7 linked regions of the Homo sapiens genome follow. The protein of the gene in region 1 purifies or fractionates together with the protein of each later gene. This does not show direct contact. Each region holds a gene or a part of one and is shown on either strand. Other genes may lie near its edges.

Evidence for each region.
Region 2: the proteins of SLC23A2 (region 1) and RASGEF1A purify together in Homo sapiens (affinity purification with mass spectrometry; one large-scale study listed by BioGRID and IntAct). This does not show direct contact.
Region 3: the proteins of SLC23A2 (region 1) and SEC62 purify together in Homo sapiens (affinity purification with mass spectrometry; one large-scale study listed by BioGRID and IntAct). This does not show direct contact.
Region 4: the proteins of SLC23A2 (region 1) and COA1 purify together in Homo sapiens (affinity purification with mass spectrometry, with the first as the bait; one large-scale study listed by BioGRID). This does not show direct contact.
Region 5: the proteins of SLC23A2 (region 1) and GLCCI1 purify together in Homo sapiens (affinity purification with mass spectrometry; one large-scale study listed by BioGRID and IntAct). This does not show direct contact.
Region 6: the proteins of SLC23A2 (region 1) and SCFD1 purify together in Homo sapiens (affinity purification with mass spectrometry; one large-scale study listed by BioGRID and IntAct). This does not show direct contact.
Region 7: the proteins of SLC23A2 (region 1) and TMED5 purify together in Homo sapiens (affinity purification with mass spectrometry; one large-scale study listed by BioGRID and IntAct). This does not show direct contact.

Annotation. Positions count from the first base shown.
Region 1 is NC_000020.11:4,855,185-4,858,510, forward strand, and holds part of SLC23A2 (solute carrier family 23 member 2), read right to left. Parts: intron 2,021-3,326; coding exon 1,788-2,020; 3' UTR 1-1,787. UniProt on the Homo sapiens protein: Sodium/ascorbate cotransporter. Mediates electrogenic uptake of vitamin C, with a stoichiometry of 2 Na(+) for each ascorbate.
Region 2 is NC_000010.11:43,201,066-43,204,565, reverse strand, and holds part of RASGEF1A (ras-GEF domain-containing family member 1A), read left to right. Parts: intron 1-698; exon of another isoform or gene 699-844; intron 845-883; exon of another isoform or gene 884-954; intron 955-1,145; coding exon 1,146-1,268; intron 1,269-2,620; coding exon 2,621-2,758; intron 2,759-3,500. UniProt on the Homo sapiens protein: Guanine nucleotide exchange factor (GEF) with specificity for RAP2A, KRAS, HRAS, and NRAS (in vitro). Plays a role in cell migration.
Region 3 is NC_000003.12:169,987,307-169,990,806, forward strand, and holds part of SEC62 (translocation protein SEC62), read left to right. Parts: intron 1-933; coding exon 934-1,053; intron 1,054-3,500. UniProt on the Homo sapiens protein: Mediates post-translational transport of precursor polypeptides across endoplasmic reticulum (ER). Proposed to act as a targeting receptor for small presecretory proteins containing short and apolar signal peptides.
Region 4 is NC_000007.14:43,646,024-43,649,523, forward strand, and holds part of COA1 (cytochrome c oxidase assembly factor 1 homolog), read right to left. Parts: exon of another isoform or gene 3,416-3,500; intron 2,630-3,415; 5' UTR 2,592-2,629; coding exon 2,577-2,591; intron 1,612-2,576; coding exon 1,512-1,611; coding exon of another isoform or gene 1,435-1,511; exon of another isoform or gene 449-1,434; intron 1-448. UniProt on the Homo sapiens protein: Component of the MITRAC (mitochondrial translation regulation assembly intermediate of cytochrome c oxidase complex) complex, that regulates cytochrome c oxidase assembly.
Region 5 is NC_000007.14:8,073,296-8,076,795, forward strand, and holds part of GLCCI1 (glucocorticoid-induced transcript 1 protein), read left to right. Parts: intron 1-3,500.
Region 6 is NC_000014.9:30,667,319-30,670,818, forward strand, and holds part of SCFD1 (sec1 family domain-containing protein 1), read left to right. Parts: intron 1-2,937; coding exon 2,938-3,077; intron 3,078-3,500. UniProt on the Homo sapiens protein: Plays a role in SNARE-pin assembly and Golgi-to-ER retrograde transport via its interaction with COG4. Involved in vesicular transport between the endoplasmic reticulum and the Golgi.
Region 7 is NC_000001.11:93,152,914-93,156,413, reverse strand, and holds part of TMED5 (transmembrane emp24 domain-containing protein 5 isoform 1 precursor), read left to right. Parts: coding exon 1-114; exon of another isoform or gene 115-156; intron 157-329; coding exon of another isoform or gene 330-378; intron 379-1,525; coding exon 1,526-1,744; 3' UTR 1,745-3,500. UniProt on the Homo sapiens protein: Potential role in vesicular protein trafficking, mainly in the early secretory pathway. Required for the maintenance of the Golgi apparatus; involved in protein exchange between Golgi stacks during assembly.

The sequences.
Region 1 (3,326 bases):
CTTGAAGCCCCAAACTTCCAAGAGTGAAGGGGGCTACGGTGACATGGCAATGCTGCAAAGACAGCGCCGCAGCACTGGAGAGCTGAGCCAGCCTGGGGCCGAGGGGGACAGGAATGCACCGTGTGGACACCAGGCTGCCAAGAACCATGCCCTGCCGCTGGAGACAGGAGACAGGCACCCACGCAGCTGACCAAAGCTCGACCAGGCCAACGGCCACCGAAGATGTGCCACCTCATGAAGCGAGGGCACTGCTTCCTATCTCAGGCCTTTTCCTTCACTGAAAAACTTCAAACCAAACCAAGAGGAGTCATTTCTCAGGAAGAATTTAGTGTTATTAATTAGAACTCTCTTAAGTGAGAGGGAGCCTGTTGGCTGCTTTTCTTATCACCTTTGGCAACCACCCTCACCTGTAAAATCAAGATCTAACGGACGTGCGACATGGCAACCCACAGGAAGTCTCCTTAAGCCAAGACTTGCAACAGAAGCCCGGCAAGCGGGACAGACCGGCGGACAGACCGTTCCACGTGGCGGCTCTGCGTGTTACCTGCCCCAGCTTCCCTTCTTCACAAAACAAATTCACGTGTAACTTGACCCATGGTTTCTGGGCTCCGGTCCAGTAGTCAGTTTTGATAAATAGATTAGGCATTACAGTATTTACACTTTCATGGTATCAAGCAATACAAAACACAACCACAACAATGGTTACTGGCCTTCAAAAGCCGTTACAACAAGCTTCCCTGATGGTGTCCACAGCTTTACAAATGCTGGTTCTTTTCTTGATGGGGGGAAGAGTGGGTGGGGGACAAGGAATAGGGATGCAAGGAAAGAGGGTCACATGGAAAACACTGATTTCCAAAATCTGCTATAGTCAATAACATTAAATAGGAATAAAACCTTGTAATTATAGACGCGCGCGACAATAACATCCACATGACGGCAGAGCCAAGACGCCCATCAGCTTGTGTGACTGGTGCCTTGGGTGGCACTCTATACTCATCACACCGGCCAACAGTGATAAATGCCAGAGAGGGTGTCTCGGCCACTAGTGAAATGAAAAGAGGCCAGTGTGCACGTGCTGGCCCGGTCAGGGCCAGGGTGGCCAAGAGAAGGTGCAGCCGAGAATCAGATATTGGCTTCAGGGTCCTTTCCTTTTCCCTCCAATGCCCCAAACAGATGTTCATTCAACATCTGTGCAGGCCTCACCCATGGCCAGATCTGGGCACAGGGGAGCCACGCCACTGTTTTCAGGTCAACAGCCTCCTCCTCCGGGAGATCAGCGACAACAGAATCATACTGGGCCAGTCAGTCATGATAGCGCAAGGCATACTAGTGCCCCTTGGTCAGAGGAGGTCTCCGCGGGCACAGACGAGGGTCAAATGACAAGGAAACAGGTCCAGGGGCTTCGGAGAGAGAGAGAAAGCCCCTGGACCCTGGAGGTGGCTTATAGGAAAGCCAGCCCTGGGTGGTGGAAGGGAACTGAAGCAAGGAATGGCTGCAGATTTTAAATGTCCACTCCAAAGGGAGGACTGGAACTTCAAATTTAGTGACCATGGCCAGCAATGGACACTCTCAAAGGGCAAGGAGTTAAGGGCTTAAATAAGGAGATAGGCGAGACACCGCATCAGGCACCATCACCCTCACAGCAGAAAAGTGATTCGCAGTCTGTCTTAGCTCTGGGGCGCAGAATGTAAATGTAGATATACAAACATGTATTTTACTTCTTGTTACTCAGCAAGGAACTACAGATACATGCCTCACTGCGGCCAGGCCACAGGGCACAGCAAAGGCTATCCCGTGGCCTGGGAGTCTTCATCTGAACTCCGGCTGTTGTCGCTCTTCCTGAGGCCTTTCCATGTGTAGCCCACAAAGGTTGGGCTGATGGGTAAGTAGCTGAAGCATCTGTATTTTTTTATAATGTTCATGCCAAATGGCAAATTGTACGACTCCATGCCGTCGAGTGATTTGTTCCCTTTGCCCACACCCTTCTTCCATTTCCGGATTCCTCTTTCCTCTGGAGTGCCTGTCACACATCCCAAGATAGAACAAAGGAATGCTTCGTTTAGCAGCTCTACTGAAAATGAAACTGTCGTCAAACACATACACACACACACACACACACACACACACACACACACACACACACACACACACATGGTCCCACAGATCAAACCTGCCTAGATAACAGCAAAGAATACTTGAGGAGGTGAAGGTGCTCAGCTATCCAGTGCCCAAACCAGAAGTCTAAGAAGCACTAACCCCTCCATGTCCTCATTCAAGCAATCACCTAATGACCTTCTGACCTCCCTATCCTTCTATGTGACCCATATTCTCAATTTTCACTGTTAGGGCCCAGCTCAGGCCATGTTATTGCTTTCCTGGTTCATTCTATCGGTCTCCCATCTGGTTACCTAGTCTTCTGGCTCATCACCTCCTGCCCCAGGTCTGCTCAAAAACTACCTCTCTAGGCCAGGTGTGGTGGCTCACACCTGTAATCCAAGCACTTTGGGAGGCCGAGGTGAGAGGATCACATGAAGTCAGGAGTTCGAGACCAGCCTAGCCAACATGGTGAAATCCCGTCCCCACTCAAAATACAAAAATTAGCTGGGCGTGGTGGTGCATGCCTGTAATCTTAACTACTCAGGAGGCTGAGACAGGAGAATTGCTTGAACCCGAGAGGCAGAGACTGCAGTGAGCTGAGATCATGCCATTGCACTCTAGCCTGGGCAACAGAGCAAGACTCTGTCTTAAAAACAAAACAAAACAAAACAAAACAAACAACAAAACACACAAAACAAACTCTGTAAAATGTAAATCTGAGTCAAAAAAAAACCTCTTTAAAATGCAAATCTGAGTTTGCAAAACAGGGCTGAATCTTTATTGTATCACACAATGCCTTCATCAACCAGTCACTGCACATTCACCCCCCCATCTAGACAGACCCACACTTCATGCTGCTTTGCTCCATTTTAGCGTGTCTGGTGCTATGGGGGACACACAGGTCATGTACCTGTTGTGCTTCTGCGGGGATGAACATCCACCGGTTGGACACTCCTGGCCACTCTGCACCCTGACAGATGGGTCAGGGAGGAAGCTCTGAGCACACAGGGCTCAGCAAGGAAGCTCATGACTTTTTTTTATATCTAAGCTCTGCTCTCTCATCAGTATTTCAGAAATAAAGCTGACTTTAATTTCCATCAGCCTGACTGTTGCATCCCTCTCTCAATTCCCTCTGGCTTAGGAGAGAAAGAGAGTAGTCGTTATGGACTCTTAAATCCAGTGCCTTCCATCTATTTGTGTGTGTGATTCCTTCTGCCTTGGTTTCCCCA
Region 2 (3,500 bases), on another chromosome or scaffold:
TTGGGTGCCCTGCCCTTGGCCAAGAGCTCCATGGTGGGCCTTTCCTCCACGTCTTAGTTGTCTCCTTAGAAGGGGGACCCTGAGAGATGTGCTGGTTCTGACCCCTCAATTCGCCATGCTGCATAGCCTGGGGCAGGGTGTGGGAAGTTTGCAGGATGTTAGAGGAGTCCCTGATGCTCCAGGGAGGGCTGCGGTGGGCAGTGTCAGCCCAGGCCCCTGAGTCCTGCTCCAGGAGGCCTGTACTCCCAGCAAGCACAACCTGGCTTGCTTCTGGCTGGGGCAAGAAAAACCGGGTTATATGGGCTGGGAGTGGAGGCAGAGGCTTCTGGGCAGCCCAGCCTGCAGCAGCCACGTGGGGCAGAGTCCCTCTAGGAAGCCCTAGGCAGTCTCCTCAACCTGCAAGTCTACCCTGTCCACAAGCAGGAGCTAGAGTGAAGTTCCCACAGACATTGACCCTCATTAGACAAAAGGCCCAAGAACCCAGCCCACGAGGATCTCGATGGAAGGCACGTGGATGTGGTATGGAGGGGCCCTGCTCTGGCAGTCAGGGTCTAGGCCCAGAGCTGGTCAGAGAGTGCAGGGGCCCCCACCAGCATTGCCCCTGAGGCCCCGCCCCTGCTGATGGGGCCCCGCCCCTGCTGATGGGGCCCCGCCCCTGCTGATGAGGCCCCGCCCCATGGATCAGCCCTGCTCCCGACAGGCCCCGCTCCTGTGCCAACCTCCCTGCATCCCCCACCCTCCCCACCGCTGACCTCCAGCTCGGCCCACGAGGATCTGAAACAGCAGCTGGCTTGCATCCTGGCGCAGCGAGCACCATGGAGCCCTACCAACGTCCCAGGCTGGGGTTAGCCCTATGGTGGCGTGGGGCAGAGAGGGGGAGAATCCCAGCGGAGGAAGACTGCTAGGAGGCCTGGGAGAGCTGCTGGGAGGCGGGGCTCGAGCCGTGCCTCCTAGGTAGGCAGGGCCGGGGTAGCAGTAAGAGGAGGAAGGGCCTGCAAGGCGAAGGGAACCGGGCAGGTGAAGGCATGGCCTCGGGACCGGCGGTGCTGGGCCTGGGAGGCAGCCGGGCCAGGTGAAGCAGCGCGGTGAGCCCCCGGGGGCCTGCCTCACCCTCCCTCCGCCCTCTCTCCGTCTCCTGCCTTCAGAGGACGTACATCTTCACCTTTCTCCTGAGCTCCCGGGTCTTTATGCCCCCTCATGACCTGCTGGCCCGCGTGGGGCAGATCTGCGTGGAGCAGAAGCAGCAGCTGGAAGCCGGGCCTGAAAAGGTGAGGCGGGGCCTGGCTGGGGCACGGGCGGGGGCAGGGGGCAGGAGGCGAGGTCAAGGCTAGGGGCTGGAGGCATGGGGCGGGGTTCACGGTAGAGCTGGGGGATGGGGTCAGGGCTAGAGTTGGGGCTTGGCCTGGCTGGGACTGTGGGATGGGGTCCAGGGTGGGGCCAGGGGGTGGGGTCAGGGCTAGGGTTGAGGCGTGGCCTGGCTGGGGCAGGGTCGGGGTCAAGGCTAGGGTTGGGCGTGGCCTAGCTGGGGCTGCAGGGTGGGGTCCAGGGTGGGACCAGGGGGCGGGGTCATGGCTAGGGTTGGGGCGTGGCCTGGCTGGGGCTGTGGGGTCTCGGGGCAGGGTCAGTGCTAGGGTTAGGCATGGCCTGGCTGGGCTGGTGGGGCCTGGGGGCGGGGTCAGGGCTAGGGTTGGGGCGTGGCCTGGCTGGGGCTGTGGGGCGGGTCTGAGTTGGGGCGTGACGCCACACCAGGCTGGGGTGAGGTCTGGGCTGGAGCTGTGGGTTGGGTCCGGGTTAGGGGCGTGGTGGGAGCGGGTGGTGGGGGGCCTAGGCTGGCAACGTGGGCGGAATCCGCTGGTTTGGAGGCTGTGCGGCGTGGGCGAAGAAAGCTGCAGAGTTGCGGGCTGGGTGGTGCGGGGGCCGGGGGCGGGGTCCAGCGGTCTGAGTGGGGCTGGTGTGGGCTGGCGCGGAGTCTTGGCTGGCGCAGGAGGGGCTTGGCCTGTGGTGCGTTCTGGGGGATTGGAGGATGGGGGCGCGGCGCCTGAGCATCGGGCACAGTCCCCTCTCCCCGGGGGCAGAGGCCGCGCGGGCATCTTCCGAGAGGGTCGGAGTCGTTTCAGCCAAGAGGGCCAGTCCCCATGCCCTAGGCCCTGTGCTGGGTGGGGTCGTGCATGCCTGTGGACTAGGGCGCGGGAGCGCGTCGCCTCCCCTCGGGGTCACACCCCTTTCAGCGCTGTCGCCCTTTCAACCACAGGGGGCAGACGGGAGCTCTCCTCTAACTGGATGGCTTGGCTTGGGTTATTTTACTGTATTGCTTTTATGGGTAACTTCTAATTATAGCAAATGGAATTAGTTTTTTGTCACCTTAGAGATGGGGTGGGTTTTTTTAATATAAGTTTATTTAAGTGAAAAAGAAAGTCAACTTAAGGGGAAGGAAGAAGGAACCAAACAGGAGTCATGTGGCGGTTCAGGTTTGGCCAAACCGCAGGTGGCACGCAGTTGGGGGCTGTGCCCAGCACAGGGCCTGGGGTGTGGCTTGGGGATGTGGGAAGCTTGCACCATTTGCCATCTAGTACCCTACTCTGCCCTGTGGGGCCTTACTCTGTATCCCCTGCTGCCCCAGGCCAAGCTGAAGTCTTTCTCAGCCAAGATCGTGCAGCTCCTGAAGGAGTGGACCGAGGCCTTCCCCTATGACTTCCAGGATGAGAAGGCCATGGCCGAGCTGAAAGCCATCACACACCGTGTCACCCAGTGTGATGAGGTGAGTGCTCCCTGGGCTCTGGCCAGGGTCTTTGGGTGTGTGCCAGGGTCTGCCCTCGGGAGGGTGGGGGCTTCGGGGACAACTCTGTATGTGGTCCCCTTCCATGTTACTCCCCCAGGAGGGTTGCTGGCTGGCCCCATTCAACCTCCCTTCCCCCAGATGACAGCTCAGCTGGCCAGCAGTGGGCCAGGGTCACCCATGATACTGCAAGCAGGGACCTTGCAGCCCGGTTGCGGGCCTGGCAATCATTGTCTCAACCCTCTCCTGGCCCTTGCTGTCCTTGTCCCTGGAGTGGGAGCCTATTGAGAGTTTGTAAGGCTCTGCCTGTCTTGGATTAGTGAGAGGAGGTGGGGGTAAGGCTTTAAACCGGTCTCCCATTTTTCAAATGTCTTCACCTTTGCCTTTGGTGGAGAGAGAACTGGAGATGCCTGGGCCAACTGGGCCTCCACAGTGGAAGCATTCCCTGTGCTTAGCAGCTCCTGTTCACCCCGAGTACTCCAGGAGGAGCCAGGGACCCCAGGCTGCTCCCAACTAGGGGGCAGAGACTCCTGGCTTTGGCAGAAGCCTTTCCCATGCCTTAAACTGTTCTATGGGCTGCTCCTGCTTCAGGAAGCAGCTCAGTGGGCCGCCTCTGAAAAAGCCATGCTTTTCAGACCCAGAAGCTCAGTCTTGAGCCTGTCTCTGCCCTTAGCCTCGTCCTGCAGCAGGACAGCCCACTGAGACCCCTCCTCAGCAGTCCTCA
Region 3 (3,500 bases), on another chromosome or scaffold:
TACTTAGAAGGCTGAGGTGGGAGGATCACCTAAGCTCAGGAGGTCGAGGCTGTCGTGAGCCAAGATCATGCCACTGTACTGCAGCCTGGGTGACAGAGTAAGACTCTGTTTCAGAAAACAAAAAGCAAAATAACTCTTTTATAATAAGAGTACTAGTCACTTTGCTAGATATTTTGCGTACAATATATCATTTCATCCTCACAACAACCTTTGAAGAATAGGAAGAGACTTATTAAATATAAGGTAACTTAGCCTCAAAAGAGTTAAGTAACTTGCCCAGGGTTACATAGCTTATAAGTGATGGAGCTAGAATTTTAATCCTGGTCTTATTCTAAAGACCTAATAACCAGGCTTCTAATTTCTTATAATTCTTTCTTGTGTCCCCACTTTACTTGCAAAAAAACTGGAGACACTTGTAAACAGTTTCCCTAAGCACCAAAAAATACATCTGTAGCAGAAATCACCTGGGGAATCTTTCAGTCTGTGGATGTCAGAGCTCCACCCCAGAAGAAGAATCTCCAGAGAGGGGTCTTGGAAATCATTTTTTGTTGGCTTTGTTGTTCTGTTGTTTCTTTTAGCTCCCTTACTTAGTAGGCAAATATCTTAGTATTTTTTAAATAAAGTAGATATAGCTTGAAAAAGGGGGCAGTTGATAAATTAAGGAGGCAACAGTTTTGAATTTCTACATAGCATTTTTTTCTAATTATATGTAATTTACACTAATAAAAACTAGTTTAAGAATAGTATAAAATGTTAGGTTGAACAATATGAAATTGCTCATAATTGACCATTTTTTACCTATAAAAATGGCAATTTTATATTTCACTGTGTTTATGTTTCTCAGTTTTTCCCCCAGGGATATGTTTCTGTTAGTGCAGCCATACCATTTAAGTTTTTATTCTAAAATTTAACTTTTGTCATTTCTTGTTCCAGTGATTGCAGTAATAGCGGCCACCCTCTTCCCCCTTTGGCCAGCAGAAATGAGAGTAGGTGTTTATTACCTCAGTGTGGGTGCAGGCTGTTTTGTAGCCAGTATTCTTCTCCTTGCTGTTGGTAAGTATTGTTATTATAAAATTGACCTCAAGAAGGTTGGTATTGAGCAGTTGGACTGTAATTTGGAGCTTCAGTAAAGCTTAAGAAAAATTAATGGAGGTAAATCAAGAAATATATGGTACTACTTTCTGAGTCAAATCTCAAAACTCAGGCTTGGTAAGATGTGTTCTGTCTGCAGAAAAAGGATTTAATACATCTTTAAAAAAATTTTTTAATAAGATTATTTTTTATTGACAGATCATAATTGTATACATTTATGGGGTACAATGTGATGTTTTGGTGTATGTGTACAATGTGGAATGTTTAAATCAAGCTAATTAACATAATTAGCATATTGATCACCTTTCTTGCCTATCATTTATTGTGAGACATTTGAAATTTACTTATTTTGAAATATACCATACATTATTATATCTTAATCTGCAAATAGATGTGCTTTAAAAATTAGTTATGGCAGAGGCGTTTAATATTTTTGCAGTGGTAGATCATTTATTAGACATAATACTTTCAGTAAAACATTTTTTAATTTTGACTTAGAACAAATGCAACATCTAAATAATCTATGCATATATTTAATAAATGATTCTAAACAATTGATTTGCCATTTTGGGAAAAATCAATAATTTTCACCCAAGTACCAAAATACTAGATGCAATAAGGAGTTAATGTTTTAAAAATCAAATAGGAAAACATAAGTAAATGAATTTTCCGCATTTCTGGATGATTGGGGTCTTTCATAGATTATTTGTTTAGAGGCAGGGTCTTGCTCTGTCACCCAAGCTGAAGTGCAGTGGTGAGATCATAGCTCACTGCAGCCTTGAATTCCTGGGCTTAAGCAATCCTCCTGCCTCAGCCTCCCAAGTAGCTAGGAGTACTGGTGCATTTCATCATGCCTGGCTTTTTGTGGGGGAGATAGGGTATCACTCTGCCCAGGCTAGTCTCGAACTCCTGACCTCAGGTGATCTGCCCTCCTTGGCCTCCCAAAGTGTTGGGATTACAGGCGTGAACCACCACGCCCAGCCTCCTTCCTCTGATTTGGTAACCTCTGGCAGCAGAAAAATCCCCTGCTGGTTTTGCATGGAACACGGGCACATTTGTAGGCCAAGAAACAATATCTAAGCCTGTTTGAATTTAGTGTCAGTGTAATACCTGCATCAAGAAGGAAAAGTCATAAACTTTGATCTGACATTAGACATAATAAAATTGGTGCTTTTTGCCTTTCAAATTCCTGAAATTTAGAAACTCCTTGGAAATTTTTAGCAAAGGTTTAGCTCCACTGAATAGAATTATTCTACTTGCTTATTTTTAAATTAAACCAGTGTTCACAATAGTTTATGGTTATTATGTAGTTTTGCTGTTTAAAATATTGTTTCTTCAGTAGTCTCTTTAAATAAATTTTCATTGTAAATATGCTGTGGATTTAAATATGCATTATGAACCAAATAGTCTTCTGAATTATACCAGGAAACAAACCCAACATTTTATTTTGATTCTCTTAGAAAATGCAATTCCAAATATACTTTCAAATAATTAGATATTTCTTTTATATTATTCTTTGAAGTCTTTATATATATTATGTATATCGCATATAATATATATCATGTATATTATATATGAATATATATGATATATAGATATATGATATATCATAATATTATATATCATATATATCATATAATATATATCATATGATATGTCATATATATTATATGATATCTCATATTTATATGAAATATATTTTTATATATATTCATTTTTTGGAGACAGGGTCTTGCTCTGTTGCCCAGGGTAAAGTACCATGGCAGAATCATAGCTCACTGTACCCTCAAACTCCTGGGCTCAAGCAGCCCTCCCACCTTAGCCTCCTGAATAGCTGGGACTATAGGAGCATGTTGCCATGCCTAGCTAATTTTTTTTTTTAAAGTCAGGGTCTTGAAATATTATGTATTGGTCACAATTATATCTGGTGTTTCTTTGAATATGCATTATTAATAATGCCATTTAAAATAAAACCTTTGGCAGTTTTCTAAAATCTGTCGCTTTTAGCATAGGAATGTTATTATAGTACATGTCACAGCTTCCCCATAATTCTTCCCTTTTCACTCTCGGTAATCTAGTGCCACATAGCGAAAAACTGTAAAACATGAACATTTTGCCATACCATTTGTATGTGATAAGAAATTAGGTTAGTGCCATTTCTATATTGCTTTTTCTTTGGTTTGATACAAGATTTCATATTATGAATCATCTGTCTTACAATCCTGTAAAACCTATCATTGCATCATAATTGGAGAAAAAAATGTACAGCCTCCTTAAATTCATTATCTCTGTTTATCAGTGGAATTTATTCTTAAATCATAATTTTAAGCATATTTACCTTTTCCGTTTATACCACGAAAGATTCTAATGTGTACAGGAGTCTTTCAGAATATTTATATTCTTGTGAA
Region 4 (3,500 bases), on another chromosome or scaffold:
GGGAAGCACCTCCCTGAAGCTGTAAGTTCTAATAATCAGCTGCCCAAAGGAGGGAGCAGAGGCAGGCTTCCCAAGCAGGGTGTTCAGTTTGGCCGCAGAAAGTGCTTCTCTTCTGAAGGTCCCATCACACTAATGAAGGGAAAGGTGACCTGACCCTGGAGAGGCCAAGGGAATCCCCCTCCTGGGCTGCTTCCCAGGAATAGGGATACAGGGAATACCACAGGCATGAACACGGTGCCAGCTATGATAGGAAAAGAAGGGACAGAAGCAGGGTCCAGACAGCTAATCTTTATTGAGTGATTTCTATGGCTAGGCACTGTTCTCAATATTCCACACATCTCACAATGTTCAACAGCTCTTGTGTTGTGAGATTCAATTCTCACCTCATACACAAGCACTAACATTACCACACATCACACCAATAAGGTAACTAATGCCCAGAAAGGTGACGGACTCCCCCATAAGGCCACATAGCTGGTCAAGAGCTGGAGCCGAGATTCAACCATTCAACCCAGGCAGTCGGCTGCAGTGCCCAGGTCTCACCGACTTAGCAGCCTCCTAAGGGAGAAAGGCTGTCACACCAGAAAGCTGAACCCTGACCCAAAAGTGCACCCATCCCTCTCATGTCCTGCCCCTGTCCCTTTGGCAGAGGGAAGAGGAGGCCAAATTATTCAGTCTGAATCATTCCTGGGAACGCTCATCTCAGGCCCCCTCCAGACTCTGCAACTCCACCAACTCTGCAGGATGGTGCAGAAAGGCTGGAGAGGACACTGGAGCCTGTCTGCTTGTCTGCTGGTGACACTCACATCCTGGGAAGAAGTGAAAATGTTGCAGAGTGGATGACGAGCCAAGCTGGGTGGGGATAAAGGAGCCTAAAAAAAGCCAGTCTAGAAAAAACTGCTGCCGCTTTGCCACCAGTAGCATTAAAATGACCTTAAATGTCCTGGCTGCTGACAGTAATTGTGGCCTGTCTTTACAAATTCAAATTTGAGTGCAGTGGGGCTGGAAGCGGCATCTGTCGGGATTTTGCCATCGTGGTCTCTGCTTTTATTTTCTGCCCCTGCCAGAGTTCCTTGCTCATGGTCCCTCCTCCATTAAATCAACAGCAGAGAATGAAAGTGCAAAAAAAGTCTGACAATGCTGGACGCACAGCCACAGCTTTCCCCACCTGTGAACCATCTGGTATTCCCCTTCCCTCTGTCCCTTCTTTATATAATCTCAGAATCTTGATGGAGCCCCTGTGTGTGCACTGGACTGAAAGCCCATCGTGCTTTGCTGGGCTTCTTATGCATATTAGTCCTGGTCCTTTTATTTGTACTCGTTGCTCCTGGAAAAACTGAGATTACAGGATACAGAGGAAGCTATAGCCAACGAAATGGTGGACTAGCCTTTAAAATCACCCTCTCCTCCTTTCTCTAATCTAAACAAAGCATCTCAAGTATTTCCTCTGATGGAGGAGCAGGAGCAGGCTAGGAGGAGGTCAGGCCGCAGGCGGCTAGCAGGATACTTACTTTGAATGAGGTAATACACAATGGCAAAGCCCCCGGCATAGAACACACCGTGGAAAAGGATCCTTGCTCCCAGAGGCATTGACCGCCTGCTTCCTGCATACTTAAAAACAAAAGATACAAATTTATTGTAGGATTCCCAGTTTTGTGCCAAGGGGATTTGCCCGGCTTGGACCCCTAAAGGAAAGAAGCATTAAGGAAGCCAGAAAGGAGGCCAGACCGCCCTCCCTCATTTGCTTCCTTTCCAAATGCCAGGGTTGGTTCTGAAGCCAAACTGAGTGCCCTCCTGAGGGTGCCCTCTCGAGAGTGGCCCATGTCCAGGACCCATGCTGTGGGGGCCCTGCCACCCCCAGCCAGCCCAGCACAGAGCGAGCATTCAGCCCACCATCCTGACAGACACAGCCCAGACTGTGTGCCAAGCCCCGCATGGCCAGGAAGCACAACCACTTTGTCTCAGGCCAACTGGTAAACAGGAAGCTTATCCTTTGTGGCAATGGCTGGTCCTGTAAGCCTGCGAATGGGCTGGAGCTGTCACTGGCTCCTTTCATATTTTGAAAAATGCACCACCCTTGGGATGAGGAAACTCTGGTTATGACTCAGGCTGAATGAACAGATGGAGGGATGCCAGCTCGGTAAATACAGCATACCATCCATCCACTCTTATAATATGTAAGAGTATCAAAATGAGTGTAAAGTTAATTACAGTAATGTGATCTGGGAAAAGTCATTTAGTTCTCATAATGAAAACGGTCAGAGCATCTCTGAAGAATGTATTAGTCAGATCTTGCTTAATTTGAAGAGAGCTCAACAGGGTGAGGCAGCCAGACTGGGTTATGGAGAGGTTCCCAGAGTGTTACAGCTTCCAACGCCAGCATGAGACACGAGAGAAAGACAGAGTGGGAAACAATGCAGAAAATGCCCATCCCTCCTGTGAAGTTAAAGCACAAGTGAACCCTAAAGACCAGGAGAAGCCCATAACTATTCAGGGAGTGACTTTCTTCTATTGTCTAACTCGAGAATACCCTGGCAGGTTCTAGTGGGGAACTTGGCCCTGGAACATTCCATTACCTTTTGCCACATCATAGCACAACTCTCTTGAAAATCATCAAAGGCAAGTTGTCCTGCAATTAGAAAAGATTTTACATTAAAATCATATTTTTAAAGCCCAGTTCTCTCTAGTCTCATACAGCCAAGATTTATTACCAACCCAAGCTTTAGAACACGAACAAGAAGTTAAAATTAAACTCTAAAACAAGCCTTGTCTGTGAAAGGCCCTGGTTTTTCCCCCTTCTGCTGCCAAATTAGGAAGAAAAAACAAAGCCTGCGGGTTTCCTGTCTGTGTCCTATGTAGTTTTTGTTACAGCAACCAAAGAACCGGTGTGCACAAGGGAGAACCGCAGACAGCAAGTGCTTTGACCACAGCACAAACACAGGGCCAATCAACAGGAGGCTGGACCTGCAGAAGCAAGATGCTAGCAATAAAAGCTGTACGTGACAGAGTGAAAACAGCACTTCAGAGTTAAAAAGAAACAATAGTACAGTAAACTTATACATGGACTTTAACAATATTGATAATACCTAATACTTCTGTCTCTGACTATTATGTGTCTTGTACTATTCTAAGCACTTTATATAATTCATTTAATTCTCACAACCCTTTGAAGTAGGAACTATTATCATCACGCTCATTTTGCAGATGAGTAAACTGAGGCACAGAAAGGTTAAGTAACATGCCCAAAGGTGCACTAATAAGTGAATAAGTGGTAGAACTGGGATTCAAATTCATGCAGTCTGGCTCCAGCATCTGCTCTTTCAACCACTGTGGTACACGAGCTTTAAGATATCTAATTAAAGCAATATTGAAATGTGAAAACAAACAGTGTCTCTGAGCTAAAATATATTCTTACTGTTCAGTGTAAAAGTCCTTGGCAGGCATGCCTTTCCTGCTATTTTTCCAGACAAGGTGGATACATATTTGTACCTTCATTCCTT
Region 5 (3,500 bases), on another chromosome or scaffold:
TATCAATTATTTAATACACAGCTTAGTCAAAACCTCCTTCCCTAGCCTAGTTTGTGTCAATTATCTAATAAGATGAATTCTGACCATTTCTTAGACAGATTAGACCTTTTCCTAAGTTTGCCTTTGTTGGTATATTTTCCTCTGTGCCCTTTTGTTCCTACATACCAGATATCTGCCTGCATAACACTAATTTCTTTATATTCATCCTCTTGTTTTTTTAATATGTAAAATGAGAACATTGGTTCAGATCATCTCTAAAGCTAAGGTTTTTTTCCTAATAGTTAAAAAATATTTCTTAGTAAAATAGGGTAATAATACCTTCCTCATATCATTGAGGTTACATGAGATACAGCAAAATGCTTAGCACAACTTATTGGCACATGGCAAACAATTAGTGGTGATGAATGTTGCTTAATAGTGATTTTTTTAAAATCTCTTTAGAAGTTATATAGAATGGGTTTCAGAATTATTTAAGACATTTCTCTGTTTTCTACAAGATCACCTCAGTTTGAGAATTAAAGCCCCATGACATCAGTTTCATAATATCTACCATATTTAGCTGAGAGGCATTACTTTGTGATTAAGATCAAGTTGATGTTACTACTCCCTGGAAAACTGTGTAGCTCTCTGTTATGCAATACAAGGTTTCTAGTTCTCAAATCAAATACCATCTTTATAAAGAGAAAATTAAAATAGCACCTATCCCTTTTATATATGTAACTATGCACACATGGGTGTGTTAGAATTGGGAGTTGAGGTTTATGTATTTCAACTGAGGTTATACTTCTAGTTTATTTAAGGAACACTTATTGAGCATTTATTGTATGTCAGATATTGTACTGGAGAGTGGAGAAATAGAGATGAATAATATGTGATATCTGTCTTTAAGGAATTTATAGTGTAGTAGGGAGTAATTAGGAATGTAAACAAATAATACACTATTATAAATACACTATTATACAGTGATGTTTAGAATACTAAAAGTGTAAAGGAGGGAGTTGTCCAGAAATTTTACAATTTCTGGAACTAATATATGTCATTCAAACTGTAGGCTAGTTTCTGACTCATTTCTTCTTTATGTAAGGCCCAAACTCTGGGTTTTGCTATTTTTAAATATACTAATTATTTCTGTGATCCCAGCATTTTGGGAGGTCAAGGCGGGCAGCTCACTTGAGGTCAGGAGTTAAAGACCAGCCTGGCCAACATAGTGAAACCCCATCTCTACTAAAAATACAAAAAGTTAGCCAGGTATGGTGGCATGCAGCTGCAGTCTCAGCTAATTAGGAGGCTGAGACAAGAGGATCACTTGAACTTGGGAGGTGGAGGTTGCAGCAAGCCGAGATCACGTCACTGCATTCCAGCCTGGGCAACAGAGCAAGAGTCCATCTCAAAAAAAAGATACTAATTCTTTCCTATAATGTATGTTTTCTACAATAAATCATAAATTGGTGTTTTTTTATTAAAGACATAAAAGGAAGCTGTATAGCTTTCCTAGAGCTTTTCATCATTATGAAAACAGAATTAATTATATAATTTTGAAGTCAACTAGGATTGATTTGATTTGGAGTACCTACATGTTCTGCAGTTGCTGTGGAGAGATTTGTTCTGTGGTAGAGTAACTAGTTCAGACATCTGTAGGAGCCTGGATAGACATGGAGGGGAGAGGGATAGCTGCAGTGAATAGCTGCCCTAATGAGGGATGTGCTGGTGAGCTGATTATTTTTCTAGTATTCATTTTATATACGTATTCTTTTTCTGACTTTGCTAACATCATTTTTGTGTGTTCCTAACATCTATTCGCTATGAATTATGTATAATTTGAGACCTATAAAATAATTTTGTATTATCAATGTGCATCGCACATTGGTTTTTTTCTTTGCCTGTATGGATTGTAATGCCAGGACAAAAACACTCTGTCAAGAAAGTTTCAGCTATTGAGAGACTTGTTTCAAGTGAATGGGTTTTTGGCGTTTCGTTTTGATTTTTTACTAGATTTTTCCAGTGACCTAAAGACTGAAGGGAACTTGGTCACACTGGTCACATGTGTAAAGTTTCCAGGCTAACTAATAGCCATAGGAACTACTACTGCTCTTCTCTGTGTGGAGAATTCAGAGATCCAGAATGAGAGCACTCATCTTGACATCATCAGAATGTACCCTAAGAGGTAGCTTACATTCTTCCACATTATCATACCCAAAATAAAGTTCAAGGAACAAAAATAGCCATTTATATAATACAGATGGCAGTGTCGGAATATTAGTTTCTTAAGCAGCTCTGCCAGCGTTGCTTGATGGTAGCCAAACTGGTGCTGGTTAAGCCACAAAATGTAGACTTCAGTCAGCTACTTATCATTGATCTTTGGCACAGTTCACTTATGCAGTTGTTATAAAATTCTGCAATTTTGCAGGATATTGTGGAAACATTGATTATTGTAATCATGAAATAAATGGAATCGTTTGATTCAGGCCAACTACTGAGTAGAGTTGTATTCCAAGAGTCCCTAAATTGATTACTTGTAATTTAAGCTATATTTTCCTGAAGGAACAGTGTACACTATGTGGATAGAGTTTCCCAAGCCAATGCATGTAAGCCTATTTAACTCATTCTGTGATTTAACTCATAAATATTCGTATTGCTAAACTTTTAGTGTTAGGACTGAGCCTCCCTTGGTCTTAGGAGAAAAAAATCAAAAGTATTAATTTTGTCTTTTCAGGGTCTAGGGTTGACCCTAGGCAGACTTTTGAAACAGACTGCTTTTGGCATCTTCCTATTCCTTTATACGTATATTTTAACATACTTGTATTTATCTCTAGGGCTCTATTTCTTGACCTTTTTTTGACCTATGCCCTTACTATGCTTTAACCCTCTATTTTTTAGATAAATCAGCCAAGATTTTATGGCACTTTTCTTTTGGGGGTTTATATTGTAAAAGCAGATATGATGGGTATACTACTTAGAGCTACCACACCTTGAAAAATCACTGCTTTTGAATCTGGATGCGTTTATCAAAATATTCTCTTTATATGGTTCTAGGGCGCTTATTATCCTAGAAGGACCTTTTGGTGGTAAAATTACAGCATATAAAGATATTATTCCAACAAAGGAGTTAGTCTATAGGTTAAAATTGATCTATTCTAGAATTCATGTCCCTAAGGTCATTTTACCTGTCTTTCAAGAAAGCATCTTAAGATACATACATTCCAGTGTCTAACAGCACAAAATAAGTATCCAGTAAATGCTATTGTCCCTTCTTTCTGAAAATGTTAACAATTTTAACAATGGCAGATACTGTGATAGCTATGAGTTATTATTCATAATTCAAAACTACTTAAATATACAACTCAGTTTTAGCCATTATTGCTCAGTTTAGAATATAAGCAAATCAAAAATTTTTAACATACCTGCATATATATTTCACTTAATTGTTTGTCTATTTACCATGATGTTAGCTCCAACAAGAGTAAATGACCATATTTTGGTCAGTGCTTTACTCTCAGTGA
Region 6 (3,500 bases), on another chromosome or scaffold:
AATAGATGCAGAAGAGGCCTTCGACAAAATTCAACAGCCCTTCATGCTAAAACCTCTCAATAAATTAGGTATTGATGGAACGTATCTCAAAATAATAAGACCTATTTATGACAAACCTACAGCCAATATCATACTGAATGGGCAAAAACTGGAAGCATTCCCTTTGAAAACTGGCACAAGACAGGGATGCCCTCTCTCACCACTCTTATTCAACATAGTGTTGGAAGTTCTGGCCAGGGCAGTCAGGCAAGAGAAAGAAATAAAGGGTATTCAATTAGGAAAAGAGGAAGTCAAATTGTCCCTGTTGGTAGATGACATGATTGTATATTTAGAAAACCCTATTGTCTCAGCCCAGAATCTCCTTAAGCTGATAAGCAACTTCAGCAAAGTCTCAGGATACAAAATCAATGTGCAAAAATCACAAGCATTCTTATACGCAAATAACAGACAAAGAGCCAAATCCTGAGTGAACTCCCATTCACAATTGCTACAAAGAGAATAAAATACCTAGGAATTCAACTTACAAGGGATGTGAAGGACCTCTTCAAGGAGAACTACAAACCACTGCTCAACGAAATAAAAGAGGACACAAACAAATGGAAGAACATTCCATGCTCATGGATAGGAAGAATCAATATCGTGAAAACGGCCATACTGCCCAAGGTAATTTATAGATTCAATGCCATCCCCATCAAGCTACCAATGACTTTCTTCACAGAATTGGAAAAAAACTAAAGTTCATATGGAACCAAAAAAGAGCCCGCATTGCCAAGTCAATCCTAAGCAAAAAGAACAAAGCTGGAGGCATCACACTACCTGACTTCAAACTATACTACAAGGCTACAGTAACGAAAACAGCATGGTACTGGTACCAAAACAGAGATATAGACCAGTGGAACAGAACAGAGGCCTCAGAAATAACACCACACATCTGCAACCATCTGATCTTTGACAAACCTGACAAAAACAAGAAATGGGGAATGGGTTCCCTATTTAATAAATGGTGCTGGGAAAACTGGCTAGCCATATGTAGAAAGCTGAAACTGGATCACTTCCTTAAACCTTATACAAAAATTAATTCAAGATGGATTAAAGACTTAAATGTTAGACCTAAAACCATAAAAACCCTAGAAGAAAACCTAGGCAATACCATTCAGGACATAGGCATGGGCAAGGACTTCATGACTAAAACACCAAAAGCAATGGCAACAAAAGCCAAAATAGACAAATGGGATCTAATTAAACTAAAGAGCTTCTGCACAGCAAAAGAAACTACCATCGGAGTGAACAGGCGGCCTACAGAATGGGAGAAAATTTTTACAATCTACCCATCTGACAAAGGGCTAATAACCAGAATCTACAAAGAACGTAAACAAATTTACAAGAAAAAAATCAAACAACCCCATCAAAAAGTGAGCGAAGGATATGAACAGACACTTTTCAAAAGAAGACATTTATGCAGCCAAAAGACACATGAAAAAATGCTCATCGTCACTGGTCATCAGAGAAATGCAAATGAAAACCACAATGAGATACCATCTCACACCAGTTAAAATGGTGATCAGTAAAAATTCAGGAAACAACAGGTGCTGGAGAGGCTGTGGAGAAATAGGAACGCTTTTACACTGTTGGTGGGAGTGTAGACTAGTTCAACCATTGTGGAAGACAGTGTGGTGATTCCTTAAGGATCTAGAACTAGAAATACCATTTGACCCAGCAATCCCATTACTGGGTATGTAGACATCTGTAATTTTTCAAATCCTGCTTTTTATGTCAAAGAGAAAAATGGCAAGGAAATAAACTATTATAAAAGATTTATTTGAGAAAGTTACAAGGTTTATGTTAAGGACCTAGAGTCAGTATTGATAACCTTGTTTTATCTAAAGGAGACTGAATTGCATTCAGTATATTTAATTTGCTAAGACCTAGAATAATCATTAATTCAAAATATATACAGATACCTTAGAACTAAGATAATTATATTTCAGTCATGCTGGATAATTTCTCCATACTGTGTCTTCCTTCTTCATCAATCATTTACTTGTTGATAGTCATGTTTTATCTTTCACTATTCTTTAGTTGGCATTAAACCATAAAATGCTGCTATTTGTGAGGGAACCCATAGATGTAATGCAAGAAGTTGGGGGAAAGAAAAAAGATACTTACTTTTATTTTTGCCTAATGGTTTTTGTGGGTTTGGTTTGGTTTGGTTTTGGGTTTTGGGGGGTTTTTTGGTTTTTTTTACAGAAAAGGTACAAAAATCAAGCCTCACGTGAATAAAATTAGTCCTAGGCAAGAAAGTTTAGCCACTACTGGCCTGACTCTTAAAGTTTGTGTGAAAGAGGGGCATCACTTATTATTATAGCATCTATTGTAATTTTTAAAATTGCAGTTCATCACTCAAGTGACACATCAGAATGTTGACTCTCTAAGAGTTTAAAAATATTTAAGATAACATTTGTTACTGGAAATGACCAAGCATCAGGAGGCCTGGTTGCATAAGTTGATTTAGCCAAACATTGGACTACTGTGTAGTTATGATAAAGATGAAGTAAATGTACATATACAGATACAGAAAGAGCTGTAAAATGTATTATTAGATGAAAAAAGATATAACATGTACCCTGTAATCCCATTTTAAAAAATAAAATTAAGAGGATGTGTATGTGCTATTATATGCATCAATGTTTTTCTAGAAGGATACACAAGCATATTGACATGTTTTTCTCTTTTTCTTGTTTGAAATTTTAATATACATCTAATACTTTCATTAAAATACAGAAACAAAATTACATTTGTATGTAACAAAAGATTGGGAGGAGATGTTTTAAATTTCAGATCTATATTTTGTCCTTGGAAACATTAGAAAGGGCAACAAGATTCTATTTTTATTAGACTTAGAAAACAGTTGTTTAACACAAGATTACTTTTTCCTAGGATTTCCATTTAAACAGGGTTAATTTGGAAGAATCTTCAGGAGTGGAAAACTCTCCAGCTGGTGCTAGACCAAAGAGAAAAAACAAGAAGTCTTATGATTTAACTCCGGTTGATAAATTTTGGCAAAAACATAAAGGAAGGTAAGCAAAATATCAATAAGTAAAAGATTCATTTTTTTAAAGAGAAATTAAGGTGTCATCCACCTTAATGAATTTGAGAAAAAAAAGGGTCATGTAGGTTCGTTCACCCAATGAGTGGGGGCTGTAATTAGATAGTCTGTAGATATTTGTCTTTATTTCTCCATTTCTCACTGATTCCTAAGTTGTTTTTTGTTCATTGTTGTTTTATAGGGACCGCTTCTCCTTTCAATGAGATCATCCTATACAGATAGTCTTTTTCAATTTTGTTGCTGTCTCCACTGACTCTATAAGACCATCTCTGCCTTTCATTTAAATTGGCTTTTGTGATTTTGGGGGTGATTTTTTCCTTTTTGTTACATGTTGCCCTCATGTAAACCTTGTTTTAGATACTTGTGGAGAGAGTACCTAAGCCTAAAAGCCTAG
Region 7 (3,500 bases), on another chromosome or scaffold:
ATTTTCTTTGAATTAATCCTGGATAATATGGGAGAACAGGCACAAGAACAAGAAGATTGGAAGAAATATATTACTGGCACAGATATATTGGATATGAAACTGGAAGACATCCTGGTCAGTATGGTCTTCTAATAAAATAAAAATTATTAACAGCCAGAGGCCTTACTATGGTAATAAGTTACTGAACTAAGCATTTTATCTGCATTATCCAGGAAAATCTGTTTCTAATATTTTATTTTTGCCATAAATACTTTGACCTCAAGTATCAGCTTAATTTTATTTTATATTAATATAGCCCTTTTATAGTTTTCAAATAACTTATCTTCCAGGACCCTATTATAAAAATAGCTTCAGATGTGCAAATAAGACTGCATCTTGGTAAGTTTGTTTTATAAATGTGCAGTTAGAATTTTTAAATTATAAATAGATTATGCTTCTGATTATACAGCAGGCATATGAAAAGTAAAATGTTTTCTAATTTCACAACTATTTTGTGGTATTAAAACATTGGGTGTTTTACTGAATACTAAATTGTTCAGATAAACATACAAAGAAGGAAATATTATAAACACATGCATTATGTAATAGGTAAATACCTAAAGTTATATCAATTGGGTTTTTAAAAATGAAATCATTTGCCAGGCATGGTAGCAGGTACCTGTAATCCCAGCTACTCAGAAGGTTAGGGGGAGGATCATTTGAGCCCAGTTCAAGGCTGCAGTGAACCATGGTCACACATATAAATAGATACTACACTCCAATATAGCAAGACCCCATCTCTAAAAACTTAATCATTTGACCAGGCACAGTCTCAGGTTGCAATGAGCCGAGATTGTGCCTAGGCAAACTCCATCCCCCGACAAAAAAAAAAAAAAAAAAAACCTTAGTCATTTCCTTTGGTTGTGTGAGGACTAAGAAAGAGATAATGTACGTAAAACTCCTGATGCTATGCCACTCAGAATAATTTCATGTTACCTATTTTCAATTCACAGTAGCTTTGTTCCCTTGTTAAATAACTACTTATAAACAATATAAATATGTCAGGAGAACTATTATATAACCTTACAGAGAATCTCTAATGTAATATAAATAGTACCTGCCCTTTAATTGAATTGTGCAGCCATCTAACTTAAAATTGTGTTTGGATAAAAAACATAAAGCATATTTTGAAAAAAACTTTTTTTGAGACAGGGTCTCACTCACTCTGTTGCCCAGGCTGGAGTGCAGTGGCACCATTATGGCTCATTGCAATCTCAACCTCCTGGACTCAAGTGATCCCCCCACCTCAGCCTCCCAAGTAGCTGGGACCACACTTGGTGCTACCATACCCATCTTTTTGTAGAGGCAGAGTCTGTCTGTGTTGTCCAGCCCAGTCTTGAACTCCTGGGTTCAAGGGGTCCTCCTGCCCTAGTCTCCCAAAGTTCCAGGATTACAAGGCATGAGTCACTGCACCCAGCCTCATTTTTTAATTAAGTTAAAATTTCTGAGCATTCTTTAATAATAAAATTATTTTATTTATCTCCAGGAATCCATCAACAGCATCAAGTCCAGACTAAGCAAAAGTGGGCACATACAAACTCTGCTTAGAGCATTTGAAGCTCGTGATCGAAACATACAAGAAAGCAACTTTGATAGAGTCAATTTCTGGTCTATGGTTAATTTAGTGGTCATGGTGGTGGTGTCAGCCATTCAAGTTTATATGCTGAAGAGTCTGTTTGAAGATAAGAGGAAAAGTAGAACTTAAAACTCCAAACTAGAGTACGTAACATTGAAAAATGAGGCATAAAAATGCAATAAACTGTTACAGTCAAGACCATTAATGGTCTTCTCCAAAATATTTTGAGATATAAAAGTAGGAAACAGGTATAATTTTAATGTGAAAATTAAGTCTTCACTTTCTGTGCAAGTAATCCTGCTGATCCAGTTGTACTTAAGTGTGTAACAGGAATATTTTGCAGAATATAGGTTTAACTGAATGAAGCCATATTAATAACTGCATTTTCCTAACTTTGAAAAATTTTGCAAATGTCTTAGGTGATTTAAATAAATGAGTATTGGGCCTAATTGCAACACCAGTCTGTTTTTAACAGGTTCTATTACCCAGAACTTTTTTGTAAATGCGGCAGTTACAAATTAACTGTGGAAGTTTTCAGTTTTAAGTTATAAATCACCTGAGAATTACCTAATGATGGATTGAATAAATCTTTAGACTACAAAAGCCCAACTTTTCTCTATTTACATATGCATCTCTCCTATAATGTAAATAGAATAATAGCTTTGAAATACAATTAGGTTTTTGAGATTTTTATAACCAAATACATTTCAGTGTAACATATTAGCAGAAAGCATTAGTCTTTGTACTTTGCTTACATTCCCAAAAGCTGACATTTTCACGATTCTTAAAAACACAAAGTTACACTTACTAAAATTAGGACATGTTTTCTCTTTGAAATGAAGAATATAGTTTAAAAGCTTCCTCCTCCATAGGGACACATTTTCTCTAACCCTTAACTAAAGTGTAGGATTTTAAAATTAAATGTGAGGTAAAATAAGTTTATTTTTAATAGTATCTGTCAAGTTAATATCTGTCAACAGTTAATAATCATGTTATGTTAATTTTAACATGATTGCTGACTTGGATAATTCATTATTACCAGCAGTTATGAAGGAAATATTGCTAAAATGATCTGGGCCTACCATAAATAAATATCTCCTTTTCTGAGCTCTAAGAATTATCAGAAACAGGAAAGAATTTAGAAAAACTTGAGAAAACCTAATCCAAAATAAAATTCACTTAAGTAGAACTATAAATAAATATCTAGAATCTGACTGGCTCATCATGACATCCTACTCATAACATAAATCAAAGGAGATGATTAATTTCCAGTTAGCTGGAAGAAACTTTGGCTGTAGGTTTTTATTTTCTACAAGAATTCTGGTTTGAATTATTTTTGTAAGCAGGTACATTTTATAAAATGTAAGCCCTACTGTAAGGTTTAGCACTGGGTGTACATATTTATTAAAAATTTTTATTATAACAACTTTTATTAAAATGGCCTTTCTGAACACTTTATTTATTGATGTTGAAGTAAGGATTAGAAACATAGACTCCCAAGTTTTAAACACCTAAATGTGAATAACCCATATATACAACAAAGTTTCTGCCATCTAGCTTTTTGAAGTCTATGGGGGTCTTACTCAAGTACTAGTAATTTAACTTCATCATGAATGAACTATAATTTTTAAGTTATGCCCATTTATAACGTTGTTTATGACTACATTGTGAGTTAGAAACAAACTTAAAATTTGGGGTATAGAACCCCTCAACAGGTTAGTAATGCTGGAATTCTTGATGAGCAATAATGATAACCAGAGAGTGATTTCATTTACACTCATAGTAGTATAAAAAGAGATACATTTCCCTCTTAGGCCCCTGGGAGAAGAGCAGCTTAGATTTCCCTACTGGCAAGGTTTTTAAAAATGAGGTAAATGCCGTATAT